Regions from separate parts of the Homo sapiens genome. Here region 2 is linked to region 1. Evidence: fine-mapped expression QTL. A gene starts in region 1. The other region holds a variant in brackets. All regions are shown on one strand. Distances are between the middles of the regions. Region 1 holds the start of KLHL29 (kelch like family member 29). Region 2 holds the start of LOC105374325 (a long non-coding RNA gene).

Region 1 (5,366 bases):
GCAAAAATCAGCATCTACTGTATCTACTCCAAGGGAAAAGCACTGGGCTAATGACAAAAGAAACTGCATTTGTGTGTTTGGTGGGGTAAAAAGAACAGAGGCTTTGGGACAATCAGGCTGAAATTCCAGCACTGTCACTTACTGTGTGATTGCAGGTTCTCATCTACCCTCTCTGGAACTCAGTTTTGGGGGCTGATAACACCAATTCCACAGGTTGCTGTGAGGATTAACAAGATATCATGGGTAGAGTTCTTGGTACAGTGCCTGACATATAGTAGCCACTGGGTAAAGGTCCTTTTGTTGTGGCTATTATCATAAACACAGACAAGGACAGAAGTCCACCTTGGCCACTGTGGGTTTATGTGGCACCCCAGGTGTTCCTGATGTGACTTCCTCTGGTTCCTCCTTGGGTGATGGTGGCCTTTCCAGTACAAGTCCTTGTCTGATTGACTGCACAGATAATGGTCTATGATCTGAGCGGGGAATGGATGTCCTGGAGTGTTCCAGTCCACTTCCCTATGCACTATGAGTCCGCTCCTTCACTACCCATCTGCTTGGAGTGTACACATTAGTCCTGATCCCAGTGCCCAGATTGGGGCTCAGGACAGGGAGGGTTGGCTTTTGGAGAACACACCACCAAGTCAATCCTGTGTTTCATGGAGAAATCTTTGACCATGGTGTAAGAGGTTTCTGGGCACAACACACGAGTCCCATGAACCACACAGAGAGATCCATGCCAGTCATGGGGCCCATCCCATGGGCCACAGAGTAGAGCAAAGAATGACCCAAAAAAGATCCCAGACACCAGCAAGATCTACGTAGAGAGAGAGAGAGAGGAGACCCCTGACACAATGCAAATCCAGTTTATGTTGCCAAGACACTAGATGCGCTGGGACAGATCATGTGAACAACAGCACTCTGAAATGGAACTCATATGCAGACCAGCGCAGACCCTTCATAAATGGCTGTGTCCACACTAAACAGCTCCCAGCAGGGCAGAGCATCAATGACGAGGAAGCCTTGGATAAAACGAGGATGGGTGAGGACAGGGTAGACAAGCCCACTGGGAGTCTAATTCACACAGCTTTTCTCATTCTCCCTGACAAGCTGGCTCCCCTGGTGAGCTGTTACCAAACTTCAGCCCTGAAGAGTTTGCGGTGCCCCAGAACCAGCGCCCTTCGCACCACCATGGCCCGAGTAGGTCCTCCTCTGGATAAGACCTCAGCACAGCTCTCTTTTCTGATGCTGCCAGCAGGGAAATTGGGAGCATCCTTTCTCCTTCATCTGGAGAGGTAGCTGAATAAGGATTCTTGGAGTTCCTATTTTCTTCTTTCAACTGAGGATCATTCAAAATCATCTGTAAGACACTGTGAGTGCCTCACATTGCCAGATCTTAACCTATCCCAGACCCTGCAAACCTTGGCCACATTTCTGTAGTGCCTACAGCTGTCACATAGGGCGCTACTCCAGAATACGGCTGGGTGGACTTCTGCATGTTCACAGTCAGTGCATCCATGGAGATTATCTCAGAGGACAGCTTCCTACAGCGTGGATGAACAGACACACGCCTGTGGCTTTGTTCTCCTTCTTTTTGCATTGGGTTGACCTGTGTATCAATTTGAAATCCCAAGAAATCCCTCTTTTTTCCATTTTGCTATCTAGTACTCTTCTATCACTTTTCATATACCATTTGAAGGACATAGTACTCAAACCAAAGCTATCGATCACCTTCAGGTGTTGTCTGAGGACCCTTGGGGAGCTTTTCTCCCCCTCCCCCCCACTCCTGCTCCCCTTTTCGGCACCTCTGTCACCCTCTCTTAAGGTCACGCCAGTTTTCCTGGCTGTCGTCCTCATGAAGGGTGGCTTCCTCCCTGAAGTGCTCCGCTCTGTCCCCTCCCTTGAGTCCCGGGCTTCACACACACAAACTCTGTTGGATGTTTTTTCCAGGAAATGCAGTTATTCTGACACTAGTGGGCCATTTCCCCGGCGTCCTCATTCCATTTCTGACAGTGCTCCTGCTACCCTCAGTAGATTATTATTATTTATTATTTATCAGCCACGACACTGTACTCTGCTTCCTACAAAATATTAAAGAAGACACAATCCGTGCGCTGAGTTTACAGCCAAGGAGAGCAGAGGCCTGGATCAGACATCACAGGGGGGGAGCTGAGAAGAAAATATTTACCGGCTCAGTCCTCCTTGGCCCTGGTAGATGGAGGCAAGGACTGGCAAAGCCCTCCCCAGGCCAGCTCCTCCCAGCTGGGCCCCCACAGCCAGCTCCCCACACTACCTACAGCACCCCAACTCCAATTTCTAGCAAGGCCTCAGGCCTCAGGCCTTTACCCGGGGGAGCGGAGGGAGGGTGGAGGATGAGGATTGGGCCCTCAGGCCTTTACATTCAGACAGGGGTGGAGGAGGAGGGCAGGTACAGATATTTCCTCTGAAACTCAAAACCAGGTAAAGGGGATGTAGGGGAGGAGGGAGAGGTCGGGGAATAAAAACCAGATTAGGAGAGCGGTCGGGGTGGAGAAGACTGTGCCCAGAGTGAAATATTCTAGCATAATGGAAAAGCCCTCATTGGGGGTCCCACACGCCTCTGGCCAAATCTCTTCTATTAGGGTTAGAAGTTAGGGTCTGTGTAGACAGCATGTGTAGACCGAGAGGTGGTGGGACTGAGAAGTCAGTGTAGACAGTGTGAGAGAGAGCGAGCTGTGGTGGGGGTGAGTAGTCGGTATAGACATCAAAGGCTGGTCAGGCTGTTAAACAGAGAAGGCTTCCTGGATTCCTAAGGGTCAGTATGAACAGAAAAGTCGCGCGCCCCAGGAGAGGCAGGGCTGACTCAGAAGGCTGGTGGACACTTTGCAGGGCTCTCCCTGGTCCTTCAGAGGTGTGGACAATTCCTGCTCCTTTCCAAGGCTGGAGTGTCATAAAGAGGGCGGAAGCTGAAAGACGATTGGACTTTTTCCTTCTCAAACTTTTCCGCCAGTTTCCTCAGGTGTTGAGAGCAGACGGGGAGCTCGCCTCAGTCCCGGGCCCCCAACCCTGGGCCAGCAAGGCCAGGAGGCCACGGCGGAGCAGCCCGTGCCACGCGCCGTGCGTCTGCCGGGCGCGGCCGCGGAGCCAGGCGAGCCGGGGGCCACCGCGGGGGGCGGGGGCGGCGGACGGACGGACCGACGGACACACCCGCGAGCACTCCAACCTCGGACCCGGCGCGCGGCAGCCGGGAATCCCTCGGGCCGGGGAAACTGCGCACGGGGCCCGGCCTGGCCGGGCCGGGCCAGAGGGCCCCGCCTCCCCCACCCGCCACCCCCGCCCACTCGGGCGCCCGTGATTGGCTCCGCCCGCCCCTGGCTGCGCGCCGAAGCCCGCCTCCCTCGCAGCTAAAGCAGACGGTACCCGGAGCGGAGCGAGCCAGAAGGGAGCATGGTCCCCGCGCCGCGGCCGCGCCAGCCCCCGCGCCGCCGCCGCCGTCCCCGCCACCGCGGATCTCGCCGCAGCTCCAGCCCCGGCCCCGGCTCCGCAGCGCCCGTCCGCAGCCCCGGCGGTCGCCGCGCTTGAGCGCAGCCCCCGCCCGGAGCCCGAGCCGCGAGCCCGGAGCCAGCCCCAGCCCCGCGGCCGCCGCGGCTGCGGGGAGAGGGCGGGGGCGATGCTGCCGGAGCCGCCGCCGCCGCCGCCGCCTCGATGAGAGCCGCGCCGCACCGCTCATAGCCGCACAGGCTGACAGGCAGGAGGACCGACTTCCCTCTCCCGGGCATCCTCCCTGGGCTGCCGGGAGGCGGCGGCGGCGGAGGAGGAGGAGGAACGAGGGGAGAAGGCGGAGAGCAGGAACGCGAGGAGGAGGACCTGGATCCGTTTCCTCCGGCCAGGACCCGAGCGGCCCCAGCCACCGCTACCCGCCGGCGCTGTCCGCTCTCCATCAGCCCTCCTGCGCCCACCCGCGACCCCGGGCTCTCTGCGCGTCGGGCCGGGGCCGGAGCCGCGCGCCGGAGGTAAGAGCCGGGCCGGGCTGGAGCGCCTCGGATGCGGCGCCGGAGGGAGACCCAGGTCCTGGCCGCCGCGTGGGGCCGGGCCGGGCCGGGCGTGGGAGCGGGGCCGGAACCCGGAACCCTGGGCTCGGCTTCGGCGGCGGCGGCGGCGACAGGAGCCTCCCGCGTCTGGACTCGCAGGCTGCAGGAGCCCTTGCGCCTGCGCTGCTCCAGGGGGAAAAAAAGGGGGGGAAAAAACTTCCTGCCCCCGGGTGTGTATGCACCGGGGCTGCCTGGGGCCACTGTCACGGTGTTCGGAGGTGCTGGAGGCTTGTGTGACCCCTGGCCGGAGCAGCCCCCCTGCTGGGCCCGGCGGCGCGCGCCCCTCTCCAGGCCACGTTCCCCTGAGCGGCCCAGGGCCCCGGCCGGGCAGGAGACCTGGAGGCGACGGAGGGCTGGCCCCCAGGGGCGGCCGCGCGCACTGTCCTTTGGGGAGGTGCGCGCCTCTGTGCAGCGAGAAGCCAGGTTGGGGTTTTCTGCCCCTCGCGTCCTCTGATCTCGCATTTGGGGACTGGGTCTCTTTACTCAATCCCAAGTAACTTTCGAGGTAGATGAGCTCGAAAACCGTCGGGAGGGAACCCGCACAGACCTTATTGTGACCCACCCCACCCCGACACACACACGCACACTTCCCTTGACACCTTGTGGGTGCCAGCGTGTTGTGGGGGGACGCGGAAAGGAGAGCTCACGGGGACGGCGAAGCGGCCAGGAGGTGGTGTCGTTGGGGAGGGGTTGTTGATGTGTGGGACAGGGTGGACCTGGAGATGTGTAGTGTGGGAGTGTGAACGCGCGCCCCGATGGCCTCGGGGGGCCGGGGGAGCCCAGGGCTCGCGTCCCGGTCTCCGTGGCCTGGAGCGGGCTGAGAGCGCTAGGGTTATCTGCGGTCGCCGCGCGGGTGCCCGCGCTGGGCAGCGTCGGCCCCGGGCCCCAAGGGAGGGACGTGCTCGCCTGGGGCCGGAGCGCGGGGCTGGGAGCCGGGGTAGGTCGGAGGTGGCTCTTAGGGCAGGTCGCCTCTGCGTTGCCTGGGGAAGGCGGGGACGCGCTGCCTGCCTGCGGCCAGCCGTCTCGGAGGAGGGGGTGGCGGCCACGCGCGAGTCTCGGATGCCTGGGTCCACCCGCTGAGAAGCCAGTTGTCGTCCCTGGGCTGTGGAACCAAGCGGCAGACGCGGTCCGTTGGCGGGCCCTCGCGCGGGCCCCCAGAGATGCTGATGGGTAAGGAGCTGCCGCCGCCGCCGCTGCCATCCCCGCCGCTCTGCAAACGTTCTCCTCCCTCCCTCCCGTGCTTGCGCCGCGGCGCGCCCCGGGCGAATCGTGGACGCAGGTATTTATGTAGCATTAGGC
Region 2 (5,366 bases), 150 kb after region 1:
GTGTGAGGGCTGTTTTCAAGGGCTGGTTTGGGGAGTAGAGTATAATAGGTCTAGTACAGAAACAGGACCTAGCTTAGACCAGCCTCCACCTGCGGGCTGGCTCTGGGGTTCATGGAGGCAGGGCTGAGCCCGCCACCCGTCCTGAGACAGCCTGGGGGGCCGCATTTGCAGACTGAGCTCTGGTCGCAGCATGACAAAGGCTTGCCCGTTGCAGTATCGAGGACTGAGTCTCAGGTGTGCCCATGTCCTGAGAGGCCACGGCTTGTCACTCACCAAAGTGGTGAGCATGGATCAAGCTAGGTGTCAAACACAGCCATCAGGACCGGCTCAGCTGCGGCACTTCAGTCCGGCTCTTTCCATGTGCTCTTCAATATGTGGCTTCAGTTCTGCAGGGCTGGAAGGGCAGTTGCTATTACCCCCATTTAAGGGATAAATAAATTGAGGCTGGGTGGTTGAGGGGTGTACACAGTCACACTGCCAAAGAGGCAGGGCTGGCTCTAGTACTGTGGCGTAGAGCCCTCTGGGTGCCTGAGTTCTCTCCAGGAGGCTGTTCTGGAATCAGCGAAGTCTTTATCCTCTTCTGGCCTTGCCATTGAAGAGGAGGAGCTCGTAAGCCCTTTCCATGGGCCCTCCCACGGCTTGTCCTCCCAACCTGTCAGTTCCATCACGCTGGAATGTTGCCAAGGATCAGACCCCCTCTCTAAAAGTGGTGATGGTATTTAATAACTAATTACTCTAATGATCCTGCAGAAATGCTGGAGACCTGTTTTAGGAGAGATGTCAATTAGAGCCATCTGCACGGTGAATAAAGGAGCCCTCCCCCAGCTGTACTGTTGAAACATGTTAGCGTTTTCCTACCAGCGGCCATATGGTACTTAACGAAAGTGAATTGTTCACACTGCACAACCCGCGCCTCCTGATGAATACTAGCATTTTGTTTTGGAAAATAGTTCTTCCATCGTGTGGAATATTTTTCAATGCAGTAAGTAGCAAGTTGGAAGCCAGCAAGCCCTTGAATGCAAAAAGACTCCCATCACCTCAAGATGCTCTTCCCTCCATCCCAGCCCATCCCCTGCCCCCGCCCAGCTGCCAAGCCCAGCTCCACCCCAGCTCCCACATCCCTCCTGGGCCCAGTTCTTAGCATCTGCTTCTGAATCTGCTCAGGAGAGTGGAGGCCACCAAGGGTTCTTGCCCCATCCCACCAGCTTTGTGTCTGTATGAACTTAGAAATGGAAAACCTGAAGCCATACACAGAGCACAGAGCTCTGTCTGGAAGGATGCAGACATGGGCAGAGTCTCCCCAGAGTTGAAAAGTAGGGTGGGGTGTTTAACTGGGTGTGTGGCCTCACAGAAGGGTTCGTTTTCTATCTGTAGGATGTTTGTTTTAAGAAGTGCAAAGTTCAGGTTGACACCTGGATGCACAGTGAGGTAGAGGGGGTAAGCTGGGACTGTATCTGGGACTCGGCAGAAGCCTGGCTGAGAAGCCTGTCTCCTCCTCGTCACCTGTACAGACAAGTTTCAAATAAATAGTGAGCGAAAGTCATTGCCACGTGGTGGCCAGACAGCTGGGACCAGGGTGCAGCCACCCTGTGGGTTCCATTAACCAAAAACAGGCATGTTGGGTTCTTGTTGCCTGGGACGTTTCAAAAGCAGACCACTGCCAACATGGGACCTATTTGGGGGGTGAGGCTCAGTTTTGTGATGCTCAAGGGAGAAGAACAGGCGACCGTCCCCATCAGTTCCATCCCCCACCCACCCACTACCAGATTGCTCTGGCAAGGGGACCCTCCGCCTCCCTCGTGGGGCTCTGTGGCCTCAGTGAGCTGAGACCCTGCCTCCGAGCCGCCAGGACGGAGCTGCTTTATTGCAGTCTGCCCTGGGACCAACGGGATTTCACTTGCCAGTAATATCTATTCCGGAACTTTCCCTAGAACCAGAGTCACTTATTAAAGCTTAATAAAAGGCCAGATTGACTGCAGTTAGTGACAGAGAAGACCTGCCGCAAGTCCTGGTACCCAAGACGCTCTTCACAAAACCGTGGGCCCATAAATCTCACTTATTTCCAATTCCGCAGCAACTGATCCCAAGTTACAATAATGATCCTAGGTTCAGCTGAACATGTCCTTAAAGGAAATCCTTCTGGGTGAAAAATAGCAGAAATGTGCTCCCATCTGTTCCTCATCAGCAGACTGCACTATACTATTTGCTTTCCACGTCTGTGCCCTGGATACTTTCTCACCCTCTTTGACACCTGGGACCATAGAGATGTGAACCTGAAAGAACCAAGTCGCCACGACTCCCAAGTGCCACCTCAGTAAGGGACCTCAACGGGACGACCAAGGCCCAGTGGAAGCCTCGACGGCCCTTGACCATGGAAGCTGCCCAGAGCATCTCAAATAAGTCAGCAGCCTTTCCACTGGGCCTATTCCACAACGACCCCCCACAGACCAGAACCCGCTCCACTGGGGCCATGCCTGGGAGTTACTCCAAAGAGTTAACCTTTCCTGGTGGGAGAGGGGTGGAGGGGAAGGCTGAGGCCATTTGACATGTGCTGCCTGGTCTGAACATGATGCTGTGCTCAGACACTGAATTTGATGAAGTGCATTGTAAAATTTAAAAACAAATTTAAAACTCTATTAACTCCCTGTAATGGCCTCCTCCTGCAGTACATAGACAACACCGGCTCACTGGCAAGGAGAAAAAGTACTCTGGTTTGCAGTGTGCTTGGCTTGAAGCAGAATGGAGACGGTGGGAGCTGGTGAAGGGAATGGGGAGCCCACGCACCCTCTGCACCCAGGGCAGCACCCAGGGCGGCACCCAGGCCCCTGCTAGTGGAGCTTTGTGGGATGTGCATCGCCAAGGTTAGACTTTTTCTTGCTCCTATGTTAAAATCTCACTTTCACTTTCCTTTGAAGCTAAAACACTTCCTTCAAGAATGCACCACTGGAGTGACAAGATTGTAAGATTATCTTAACTTGGGACTGAGGCCTGGGCGGTGGGGAGCTCACTAGAGGCCTGTGGTTTGGGGTCAGCATGGGGGTGGGTGTCAGGTGGGAGGAGGTGTGTTCCCAGCCTCACCCACTACACCCTCTGCACGGGGAGAAGGATCAGGGCAGGGAGACTGTTCGCCACAGGCCTCTGCAAATCGAGGCGCGTTCAGGGTAAGGGGAGGATTGGCCCGGCTCCAGGC[T/C]ACCAACTGGAGAGAGACGAACTTTTGTTGAGAAGGGAGACAGCCCCACAGCTGTGTGTGCACGTGGGCCGAGAGGAGGAGCTCAGCTGGCGGTGAGAAAGCCTGGGGGCCGAGGGGAGGGTTCCCTCTACGTCTCTGCAACTCACAGGCCCCCAAGCTGAGGAGCAGAAGGTGCTGCCTGGCCTGGTCTTTGACGAGTTCAAGGGATTTTCTGCCAACCAGTGGCTTCCCTGTGTGAGAGCGTCTCTCAGTTTTTCCTGAGCACGTAAAGTGGTTTGGAGATATTGGGGGAGGAAAAGGTGTACACATACGGCAGGCCTGGGGGTCAAAGGCAGCAGAGAAACCATGCGTATGTGTGAGTGTGTGCAGATCTGTGTGTGCACAAGTAAGCAGTGCCTTCTGATGTGGCTGCTTGTGGGCTAGTCCTAGGGCATGGGTTTGATGCGGACTCTTGCATCCAGGGAAGTATTTTTCTGAGAGTTCCCCCACCCTCTGGGGCTGGCATTCTACCCCCTTTGGAAAGAAAGCTGGGATGGTCTAAGCAGGGAGGGGTCCTGTGGAGACTTGTAGCTCCTGGCCCAGCAGGATTCATGGCATTTGGCGTCAGAGAAAACGTGAGCCTCTGCCGGGAGTGAAGCAGCTGATGCAAAACAAGGAGCCCTGGGTCGTAGATGCAGCTCTGTGCAGCCTCTGGGGAGCCTTGGCGCTGGCTCGCAGATCAAAGCTGGGAGACCTGGGAGCTCCCTGAAAGCTCCTTCCCTGGCAGCTGCAGATGGGGTGCGGCGTTTGGGCTGGGTGATGGCATTTGTAACAGTGTGAGGACCCCCCACTCTCCCGGGACTAACAGTGTAAATAAGAATTGGGGCATTTACGCCAATGAAGAGAACAGAATTTCCTTGTGCTGACAATCTAGAAGATCCGCTTGTGGACAGTTGAAATGCTAATTATAAGCTAACTCTGTTTTCAACCTTTGTGAACCCGGTTTGGGCTATTTTGTATCAATAAGACTGCTTTCAGAAAAAACAAATTTACTAATTAACTCCCTTTATTTTAAATACATGAGACTTTCCTATGGTGTCTGTTGTTTTTTTTTTTTTAAAGAAACGTGTGCGCTATGAGGTGTTTCCACAGCTCTTTTTGGGGTATGTAATAGTCCTCCTGATATTTTAATTGATATTTGAACCAAGTAAGGACCCGCCAATAGTTGAAAGTCCCCGGTTTCGGGGATGCCTTTCCAAGCAACCAGGGATTCCTGTCTGACATCCCGCTGAGCAGCACCCATTTTATCGTGTTTCTTCCCACAGCACAGGAAACAGGACAACCGGGGCTTCAGATCATGAGACCTGGTGTTGAATCCAGGTACAATGCTTTGTGAACCTGGGAAGTCACTTGGCCACATTGCAGTTAGTATGACTTACCTTGTAGGGTCCTTCTCATCATTGTTATTTTTATTAGATAAAATCACATTTGTGCAACACCTAGCCCAATGCCTGTTCCTTAACAGGCATTTAATAAGTGATGGTTATTATGTCTCAATGCCTTTGTTGACACATTATGTCTTCCCAGCGTGGAATTTTCCTCTCTTTATTGTTTTCTATTGAAATCCTTTGCGTCCTTTCAGAGGCTACTATGAATGCCCCCACCTCCGAGAAGCCTTCCTGTTTGGCCTTAGCCAGAATGACTTATTTCTTTGCAGCATCACAGATGCTAACTTCTGTTCCAGCCCAAGTTCCCGTCTTCCTTCTCTTCTGCTCAGTGTCTCTCCAGCTACACTGAGCTGCCCCTTTCCTGCCACAGCAGGGCCCAGCTCTGTGTATGGCACAGAGGCTCATAGAGTGGATGTGTTTTGAGTTGTTGAGTGAAGCTGAGGTCCCACAGTCTCTTTGAGGCTCCAGTGCTTCAAAACTTCCCTTGACAGACTACTGTGGGTGACTAGTCAACTGCAGAATTAGAAAGAAAAAACAGTGCCTTTTCTGGTCACTTAGAGCTGAGGGCATCTTGGATTTCACAGCCTAGAACCCCCTGCAGGCTTTTTGGATCCCCTAATCCTGTTGATGCTGCAGCAGTATCGACTGGCCCTAAAAGCAGCTGCTAAAATGCGTCTGGCACAAAGGAACTTTCTGGGCTGATGGAAATGGTCTGTATCATGATTGGGGTGGTGGTTAGGCAGGTGCAT

The links. PIP is the estimated chance that this variant, and not a neighbour inherited with it, causes the effect.
Region 2: its variant is fine-mapped to the expression of KLHL29 in whole blood (TOPMed, PIP above 0.99).

Annotation. Positions count from the first base shown.
Region 1 is chr2:23,381,792-23,387,157 of GRCh38, forward strand. KLHL29 (kelch like family member 29) reads left to right here and starts at 3,388. Exons shown (of 14, transcript NM_052920.2): 1 at 3,388-3,989. LINC02923 (long intergenic non-protein coding RNA 2923) reads right to left here. Exons shown (of 6, transcript NR_187213.1): 1 at 1-5,366. RefSeq lists silencers at 1,327-1,621, 3,125-3,474, 3,645-4,504, 4,745-4,864, 4,885-5,054 and 1 more and an enhancer at 1,327-1,621.
Region 2 is chr2:23,529,662-23,535,027 of GRCh38, forward strand. All of the region lies in intron 2 of KLHL29 (kelch like family member 29), which reads left to right. It overlaps LOC105374325 (a long non-coding RNA gene), which reads right to left and starts at 647. Exons shown (of 2, transcript XR_939831.2): 1 at 1-647. RefSeq lists an enhancer at 3,333-3,392. The variant T/C (reference allele first, on the strand shown) is at 3,191.